Linked DNA regions of Homo sapiens. The protein of the gene in region 1 purifies or fractionates together with the protein of each later gene. This does not show direct contact. Each region holds a gene or a part of one and is shown on either strand. Other genes may lie near its edges.

Evidence for each region.
Region 2: the proteins of SLC6A7 (region 1) and MRS2 purify together in Homo sapiens (affinity purification with mass spectrometry; one large-scale study listed by BioGRID and IntAct). This does not show direct contact.

The regions. Positions count from the first base shown.
Region 1 is NC_000005.10:150,188,700-150,194,900, forward strand, and holds the start of SLC6A7 (sodium-dependent proline transporter), read left to right. Parts: upstream 1-1,362; 5' UTR 1,363-1,385; coding exon of another isoform or gene 1,386-1,628; coding exon 1,629-1,661; intron 1,662-6,028; coding exon 6,029-6,201. UniProt on the Homo sapiens protein: Brain specific sodium (and chloride)-dependent proline transporter. Terminates the action of proline by its high affinity sodium-dependent reuptake into presynaptic terminals.
Region 2 is NC_000006.12:24,405,936-24,409,731, forward strand, and holds part of MRS2 (magnesium transporter MRS2 homolog, mitochondrial isoform b precursor), read left to right. Parts: intron 1-2,472; coding exon 2,473-2,509; intron 2,510-3,525; coding exon 3,526-3,638; intron 3,639-3,796. UniProt on the Homo sapiens protein: Magnesium transporter that mediates the influx of magnesium into the mitochondrial matrix and regulates magnesium metabolism. Also permeable to calcium, sodium and potassium ions.

The DNA of each region.
Region 1 (6,201 bases):
CCCAGACAGTTGGAAAGAATTAAAAATTAGATGTTGGATGCAAAAATCCTTCATAATGCACACAGTAGGGCTCCATAAATGCTCCTTCTCTTCACACTCACAGCCACTCTTGGCCCCATATGGGTCAGCAGGCAGGGGGCAGAGGAGACACCTTCCTCCTGGGTCTGGAGAGCCCCTGGTTTGCCCTTTGTGGCCAGGCTCAAAGGGGAGAGAAGTTTGACAGGACCTGGGCAGGGGAAGGGGTGGACTGGAGCCTGGCCAGGCCTTTACCCAAGTCCATGCTTTGACTTAAACCCCTCCAACCTTTTTTCAAGCTCCAGAGGTGGGAGAGAGCAGAACCTTATTCTCATCTCTCCCCAAAGGCCTCCCACCGTGTCAACTGATAGTGAGCCAAACAGATGTATGGTTAATGTCTAAACTGGGACACTTGCGAGGGTGAAAAGGACACAATTTGTAATGTATATACTGATCCGCTAGTGTCTATCAGTCAGTCCCAGCAAACCAACGTGTGCCATTGCTCCAGCTCATCATTTCCCATCCTAGCCACAGGCTCACTGGACCCTCAGAACATTCTGAGGCAACAATGCATGGGCGGCTCGTGGCCCATTTTACAGATATGAAATTAGAACTTTCCAGAAGCCATACTGCTGCTGGACAGGAAACCAGTTACTAATCATCTAAGTCACAGATCACAGTGACACTGTGGCACTTGCCTGTCCCTTCTGCTCACCCAAACCTCCCCATTTTGCTTTCATCTTAAGGAAAGGAGGAGAGTTGAAGACTCTACTAGCCTAAAGGTCCATGAAGCCTGACTCTGTCCCTGGTGTCACTCATTAGCCCCGTGACTTTGAGTAAGTAACTTAACTTCCCTGTCCCTCAGCTTCCTCATCTGTAGAATAGGAGTAACGACACCTGTCTCTCCAGGTTGAGAAAATAGGACACCTAGTTCAGGACCTGGCACATTTTAGGTGCTCAATAAATACTGATAGATTGAATAATTGGACTAATGGTGGCGTGGGCAACCCACAGTCAGTGAATAAATGTTAACTGAGCACCTACTATGTGTCAGGCTCTTTGTGCTAGATGTTTTCTATGCTCCATCTTCCTGAATTGCTCACACTCCTGTAAGAGAGGAGAGATTCTTATCCCCTAAGGTCGCACAGCAAAGACGACGCAGGGGGGTGGGCTGTTAGTGTTCCTTGCCCAACTGTGGAAAGGGAGTCCCAGAGAGGGCAGGTCGCTTGCCCAAGGTCACGCAGAAAGCCGAGGGTTTCCGTCGCGAACCCCCCTCCCCACTCGCTCAGGGCTCTCCAATCCGCAGCTCTGCGTGCGGGGGCGCGCGCATCCCCCCGCCGTCCGTCCGTCAGCTGTCTGTCTGGGTGTCTATGCGGGCGCAGCAGTGCACCCTTCCCCAGCCTCGGGCGCTGCGCAGGGACAGACAAGGCATTCGCAGCGCCCTGCCCGCGCTCCACGCCCGCAGCCGCCAGACGGCAGCGCCTGCGTCCGTGCCCGCCCCAGCCGGTGCGCGGGAGCCGCGGGGGCAAAGGCGCAGTGGCCAGCGGACCATCTCTCGTGCCCTCGCTCTCTGCGCTCCGGGGCAGCTGAGCCCCGGCCACCCGCTCTCCAAGATGAAGAAGCTCCAGGGAGCTCACCTCCGCAAGGTAGGGCACGAGGGCGGGGGCGCTGGGGGTGCACCTGGAGGAGGGTTGGAGAGACCCGCCCCCAACGAGGCCCCTGGGGAAGGTCTGAGGATGCACCCAGACCAGCTTCGGGCTCTGGGGAAGGCCCGACTCAGCTGGATAACAGGGAGGGTCAGGGTCACGGTCTGCGCCCCCACCTCTGCCCCTGCCATCTGGGGTTCGGGATGTAGTATGAGGGGAGTCCTGGTTCACTGGGCCAGGCCTATGAACAGGTGTCTGCAGTCCCCGGAGGCGCGGGGTAGGGGCGGCCGGGGCCAGGCACCCACCTCTTCCCCAATTCCACCCTGCTGCTCCCCGCCAGGAGCTGATTGCCGGGTGTGGGGGGTATTGGAATACCTGAGCGTTGAGCTGGACTCATCTGAGGGGTGGGGAGTGGGAGGCGGTCATCCATACTGAAGCCGGCTCCCTGAGCCTGCGGGAAGACTCTCCTCTTTCCTGCCTGCTCCCTCCCCGCCCCCTTAGCTTGCCTGCTGAGACCCCAGGCTGCCCCTCAGCAGGGCTGAAGGGAGGCAAAGACAGGGAGGGGGCTATCGGAGGCAGGAGGATATGATCAATGAAGATGGAAGCTGGTATGGGAGAGTGGCTGTGGGCCCAGACCTCAGGCTCTCCCTACCTTGCCTTGTGGGATTGGACCTCTCAGCCAAGCTGTCAGGATATGGGGAGGGGGAATACTGGGGGACGTTTTCTGGCTTGTACCAGTCCTAACTAAGGAGTCAGATCTCCTGAATACTATTTCTGCCGCTGCCACTTGCCTGGTGACTTTGGACAAGTTCATTCTCTAACCTGAACCTCCTCTGGCTAAGCCCTAGCCTGGAGGCACCAAAACAGGCCCCACTGGGTGTGTGAGGTGTGGGGAAGAATGCTAAAGGGCTGGTAGATGTGAGAAGACTGTTCTCAGGGGCTGGTGTTATCAACCTCCCTACATACACACACATTCACACTCACACTCACTCACACACACACTCATTCATTCAAGTTCTCTGCTCTGGGGCAGCTGGGCTTGGAACCACTGTGGTGTGTCTTTTTTCTTTTTCTTGTTTTTTTTTTTTGAGACGGAGTCTCGCTCTGTCACCCAGGTTGGAGTGCAGTGGTGTGATCTCGGCTCACTGCAAGCTCTGCCTCCCGGGTTCACGCCATTCTCCTGCCTCAGCCTCCCGAGTAGCTGGGACTATAGGCGCCCGCCACCACGCCTGGCTAATGTTTTGTATTTTTAGTAGAGACGGGGTTTCACCGTGTTAGCCAGGATGGTCTTGATCTTCTGACCTCGTGATCCGCCCGCCTCGGCCTCCCAAAGTGCTGGGATTACAGGTGTGAGTCACTGCGCCCAGCTGGTATGTCTTTTTTATTCACTGACATGAGTGACTTCTTGAGACCATTTGTGAGTCTCTTGGGTCCTGTTTCCATTCTTTTCCACTCTCCTTCTCTTCCCTCTCTGCCCTCCCTCCCCACAAGAGGCCCTGTCCCTCTTGCTGGGTGCTGGGCTGGGGGGTTAGCAAGCTTTATCTCATTTAATCCTTTAACACTTCCAGGGGCTAGGTCTTAGTAGCCCCACTTTATAAATAAGGCAACTGAGGCACAGAGGGGTGAGACTCACTGCTTACCTGCTGGCAGGCTAGGCAACCTAGAGCCAACAGGGCAGAGGGTTGGTTCTAGGTTGCTACCTCCTCTCAGGGTCCTTTCCCTTTTCTCAAGCAGAATTGGGCGGGAATGAGAAAATGCCAGATTTCCGCAAAGGAGCAGCATTGCTCAGAGATGAACACTGGACTTAGAGTCAGGGGATCTAGGTCCAAGTCTTGCTGTGCCTTTAACTTGCTGTTTGACCTTGGGCTCATCCCTTCTTCCTGAAACTTGGTTTCCTAATCTGCACAATGATGAAGCTGGACCCCAGATTCCTATTGTCTCTCTCTGTCCTGAAGAGTCTTGGCTTGGGCAGTCTTGAGTCTCCCAGCCCCTGCTGTGAGTCCCTAAAGGCGAGCATGCAGGTCTGACAAACTCAGCTGTGTGTTCCTGCATGCCCCTGGGGTAGGGAGTGGGAGATTCAGGAGTGGGAGGCTTACACCCAGGAAGAAGTATGAAGCAACTCATTCAGCTTCCAGCCCTGCCCCAGCTATTTGATTGCTTTCTTCCATCTCCCAACCAGCCCCATCCTCACTGTGCCAGCCTCCTGGGATTCACCCCATGGTGGGGTTGGGAACTCCAGTTGGGCTCCTGATTGGCTCAGCTTTGGAGGACCCTATCTCCTGCCCCTGGAGCAGAAGCAGGCTTCCCTCTGATTGGGGGAGGAGGGGGACGAGCTGGCAGCATCCTGCTCTTGGAACTCTAGTCACCATGGAAACAGAGAACCGGGACCGCTCCATGAGCATGGAAAGGGCAGCTTCTCTGGAGGGATCAGAGGATCCTCATTACTGGGACCTCCTGCTAACTGGCCTGAATGGTGCTGGGATGGGCGGGGGGTGTCTCAGGGTAACAGGCCTGCTCACCACCCAACACCAGGAACAGTGGCAACCATTCCTCCCGGAGCTCACCTGGGGTGAGAGGTTGCTGAAGGCTGATGCTCACCCAGCTGGAGAGGCAGCCTCAGGGAACGGGGCATTGGAGGGGAAGGGTGGGTTTCACTTAAGTCTGGGATCTGCTGCTCCTGTCACCTCAGCATGTCCATGATCACAGCTAAAGAACTTCCAGGCATGTATTTGTTTCACCCCTTGCAGCCTAGTTACTTTAAAAACAGCTCTTCATGCTCTGTCATTGTCATCGTCACCCATAATAATGTCTGGCTGTTCCTGTCACCACGGCCCCTGTGGCCAATAGCCAGTTTCTGGCAAAATCACCACTGTGGTCACCATCACTGAGGGTCTCCTAAGGGAGAATGCCCCATGGACCTCTCACCCACTTTGAAGCATGAAAGGAGACCTTAGGAACAGCTGGCCTCCGCTCCCCTCTGGGCATGCATCTCCTCTCCAGGGACAGCAAGATTATGACTTTCTGACACAGATCACGGCTTAAGTACCTTCTTCCTGCTCATGAGCCAAAATTCACAAAATTCACCCAGCCCTCAGGCTCTCCCTACCTTGCCTGGTGGGGTTTGACCCCCCCAGCCAAGCTGTCAGCATGCGGGGAGGGGGAGTATTGGGGAAGTTTTCTGGCTTGTGACTGAAAAGTACCAGTCCTAACCAAGGAGTCAGATCTCCTTGGTTCTTAGTAGGCCCCATTTGAGCCACGGAGCATCAGTGGATTCCCTCCCTCAGGGGAACCCCCAGGTCCCTCCAAGTCCTCTCCTTTCTATGCTGAGGGCTCCCAGCTTCTTTCTGTTGTCCTCCTATCACCTCTTTTCCTGAACACCCTCCAGCCTGGCCACCTGCCCTTTGGACATGCTCCATATTGTCTGCATCTTTCTTAAAATATGGTGCCCGGAACGGAGGAACAAAACTCCAGCACTGGTGGGTGAAGGAGACCTGGCTTTCGCATCAGGAAGCCTTGGGCTCCAGACCTAGTTCTTCCACTCACCAACCTGGTAGAAACCTCGGGTATGTCATGACACCTCTTTGAGCCTCAGTTTTCCTCATGACGAAAATGGAGCTTAGATGAATACTGAGCTCAAAAAGTTGTTCTGAGAATGAAATCAGGTAATGTGAGTGAGATGTCTAGTGCAGTGGGCACATAGTAAGTGCTCAATATACAGTAACTTACTAAGATCATCATCATGCTCTTCATCTTCGTCATCCTCATCCTCATCAAAATAGGACCATCCAGCCGGCCACGGTGGCTCATGCCTGTAATCCCAGCACTTTGGGAGGCCGAGGCGGGTGGATCACGAGGTCAGGAGACCAAGACCATCCTGGCTAACACGGTGAAACCCTGTCTCTACTAAAAATACAAAACATTAGCCGGGCGTGGTGGTGGGCGCCTGTAGTCCCAGCTACTCGGGAGGCTGAGACGGGAGAATTGCTTGAACCCGGGAGGTGGAGGTTGCGGTGTGCTGAGGTTGTACCACTGCACTCCAGGCTGGGCAACAGAGGGAGACTCTTTCTCAATTAAAAAAAAAAAAAAAAAGGACTATCCCTTGATTTGGCATCTGTGTTAGCCAGACTAAGGTCAGGGTAGCTTTGTTAGTGCCTAAGCTACCCTGCTGGCCCAGTAAGTTTTGGTCGCCTAAAATCCTGAGGCTCTCCTGCATATGACAAGGTTAGTCCAGTTGAGAGCACTTGATTATCTGGACTGAGAATGTCTTTTCATTTAGCCCTGTTCAATTCCAGAGTCTTGTCTTGAGGTCACATTTCTGGCCTGGCCTCAGTCTTCTCCCCAACCTCTTTGGTCTCTCTCATTGGCAGCCTGTCACCCCAGACCTGCTGATGACCCCCAGTGACCAGGGCGATGTCGACCTGGATGTGGACTTTGCTGCACACCGGGGGAACTGGACAGGCAAGCTGGACTTCCTGCTGTCCTGCATTGGCTACTGTGTAGGCCTGGGGAATGTCTGGCGCTTCCCCTATCGAGCGTACAC
Region 2 (3,796 bases), on another chromosome or scaffold:
TCTACTAAAAATACAAAAAATTAGCCAGGCCTGGTGGTGGGCGCCTGTAGTCCCAGCTACTTGGGAGGCTGAGGCAGGAGAATGGCATGAACCCAGGAGGCGGAGCTTGCAGTGAGCCTGGATCATGCCACTGCACTCCAGCCTGGCAGACAGAGTGAGACTCCATCTCAAAAAAAAAAAAAAAAAGGTGTGCCTATTCTGAGCCAGACTTCCTAAATTCCAATCTCACTCTGCCTCTTATTGACTAGGTGGCCTTGGACAAGTTACAATAACATCTTTGTGCCTTAGTTTTCTCATCTGAAAACTGAGCATAACCTACCATATAGAATTGTTATGAGGATTAAATTAACTCATATATAGAAAGCCCTTAAACTAGTGCCTCACATATAGTAAGCCTCAAATATATTTCATTAGGATTATTTAGGCTTGTTAACATAAGAGCTTTTCTTTATAAACTATATAAAATTAAATAACCCCCAGAATTGCGTTTAAAAGTTACCACTGTTATTCATTGTTCTGGAAGAGTTGGCCAATTTAGTTAAGAATACAAAATCAGGGCCAGGCACGGTGGCTCACGCCTGTAATCCCAACACTTTGGGAGGCTGAGGTGGGCATATCATTTGAGGTCAGGAGTTTTAGACCAGCCTGACCAACATGGTGAAACCCCGTCTCTACTAAAAAACAAAAAAATTAGCCAGGCGTGGTGGTGCACGCCTGTAGTCCCAGCTACTCAGGAGGCTGAGGCAGGAGAATCGCTTGAACCTGGGAGGTGGAGGTTGCAGTGAGCCAAGATTGCACCACTGCACTCCAGCCTGGGCAACAGAGCAAGACTCTGTCTCAAAAAAAGAATACAAAGTCAAACGTGAAATACTGAAAGTTAGTTCTTTGCAGGTGAAATAATTGCAAAGAACACTTAAGAAATTCATAAAGCTATGGAATCTGAGAAAGAAAAATTTAATTTGTGCTGTTTGAAATAGTTTAGAAAGTGAGCTGGTTACAAAGTAAATATTTTTTTCTTTATAATTTGTATGATTTAAAAAATTTTTTTAAGTTCCATTAAAGAAAAAAAGGGTACATATAAATATTGAGATGCAAAAATATTCAGCATATGTTGCTAATTTGGAAGGAGGGAGACTGCAAAGCAGTATGTATAAGTATGTTTTATTAGGAAAATGTTTGGAAGGATATTCAGTGAAATATTGACATGGTTTTCTCTAAAATTTGTCATTTCAGGTGATTAATATAGTTTTATGTTACGTATATTTATTTTCAAATTTTCTGCAGTGGGTTTATGTATTTGTGAAATATAAGGCTGAAAGCTAGACTATTACACAAATATAAAGCTTTCTTTGATATAAATTTTCCTTTAATGTTCTATGGAACTTATATATTCATATTAATTTTATTTTTGCTGATGAGAAGCAAGATAAAATATATATATTGTGAGTTTTTATTGTGTGATTAACACAGCATGTATATTTCCATGGTAGTAACCCAAGACCTATATTGTACTTAAACCTGTATGTTGGAGTGTCTTTCTGAAATGTGTCTGTCGTAGTAAGTAGTACAGCTCAGCACATAGTGATTCATTAAATGTTTCACAGCTTCAAACTTGACTGTGGATAAACATCACTGAAAGATAGTCCCCTACTTTGCAGGAAATAGGTGCATTTTCTGTATCAAATCCTCTCTTCAAACTATCAGAAGGGGTTCTGTAAATCTTTATTGATTCTGCAACACCCACCAAAGAGACTTTGGCCTCATGTAGACATTTAGATTCACAAGGCGGGCCATACTTGGTCCCAGTCTACTCAGAAGGATAAGGGACAGGAGAAACAACAGGGTAGTGTTAGGTGTTTCCTCTTCAAAAGAAGTCTTTGCAGCCATCCAGGGGCTTCTCTGGTCCTCTGAGTGATCGCTCAGTGACAAGGAGATAAGATTCTCAAAGGTGGATGTGAGATTCATCTTGGCTCGAATCCCCATGCCCCGTAGTGACAGTATCCCTTGTAACCATCGCAGGGGCACAGTGTCCAGGATTCTGGCTGGGAACATGGCCACAAGAGCCACCACAATCAGGAAAGGGCAAAGAGAGCTATTGCTTTTCACCTGATAACTGTAATTTGTTCGTCTTCCCAGTCCAGTGCAGTCTACCAGTCAATGGTCATTTTTACCATAAGGATTGTTACCTAGTAACAACACAACTGATACTCCTTTATCAACTTTCTAGAGGAACCAAGATAGAAAGTTAAACCCAGGTCTGATTTTTCCTATCAAAGGAAAAAAGGATTTTAAAAAAACCCTTAACTCATAACTGGATTTAATCTAAAGAAGGTCAGTAATGGTTTATATTTGCATTTCAACATTTTGGGGATATTACTTACAATACCATAAATTCTTAACTAAATTAGCAATACCATAAGTAGCATTCTAATTTGAAAGAAAATCATAATTTGTTTTATTCTCTATTTTCAGACAAAATTTGACAAACAGGGAAACGTTACTTCTTTTGGTGAGTGATTAGCATTCTAAATCATTTTTTAAACATTTAATGAGTGAATCTGATAGAAATCAAGAAATTGTAGTATTTTGAGTAAAATATTCTTTGCATATACAGGTGTGTTGAAAGAGATCTTTCTTCAGCATTTGTCCATCAGTCTTAATTGGAGCTGGCAATACTCAGACTGTGTGTATTCTCCCAGAATTGTTTTCTTCTAGCAGGAGCCACTTTTTGCTCTAACAGGCTATTGAAGGAATATTTGGGAGAGCAGAGGCTGGTGTAGAACTGGAGCCCAGAGACACACTCTTTTTCTCTTTTGTCTCTCTTGTTGGCGTCCCTTTCACTGCCCTCATTCATTCTCCTGAAGCATGTTTAAGGCAGAGTCACATAATACCACTGACATTGCAGTGGGTGACAAAAGATGAACAGGGCCATGTCACTGCATGGCAGCCACATGGAACTCTGCTGCTGATGGCTCTCTGTGGACAGCTACTTTAAAAAGTGAGACTAGGCATTACTTTACAGTGTGACTTCAGATGTGAGTTTCACATCTCCCTTGAGAATGAATCAGTCTCAGGTAATAAATTCAGCTTTTCTCATTTTTGTATTAGTCTAAGAACAAAGAAAATCAAGCTTATCTGTTCACATATATAAAATACTGAAGATGATGTTGTAGTAAAAATAGAAAATATAGTTGTGTACAGTTTATATTTAAGAGAGATAACCTGTCTCTAGAGCTGGACATTTATAGGTTCTAATGATGCATAGTTGTGGTTTCTGTATTAGTCTCAAGGGTCTTCTAAGTAGTGAGAAAGTTATGAGGTATAGATAAGAAAATCATTAGTTTGACTCTATTTAGCCCGAGTATGTTTTCTAGGTAAAAATGGATATTAAAAGACTTAATTTTAGTTTTTGTTTCTGGTAGTAACCAAAAATTGTCTTGATGGTGGTGGGAGGACTGCTCTGATGGAAAAATCTAAGCCATTTAATGTATTTGGTTTAGCCCTCTCTGTTTATTTCTTTTATAGAAAGGAAGAAAACTGAATTATACCAAGAGTTAGGTCTTCAAGCCAGAGATTTGAGATTTCAGCATGTAATGAGTATCACAGTCAGAAACAATAGGATTATCATGAGAATGGAGGTAAAATATTTTATTTTCATCTATGTTTCTCCAATACAATCTTATAAAAGTTACCTTCTAACTATCTTGATTAGTATCTAGGTTAAAAGTAATTTTGGAATAGAAATAGCTACCTGAAACATAGGATGTTTTATAGCTTAATATGCTATTATGAGTAG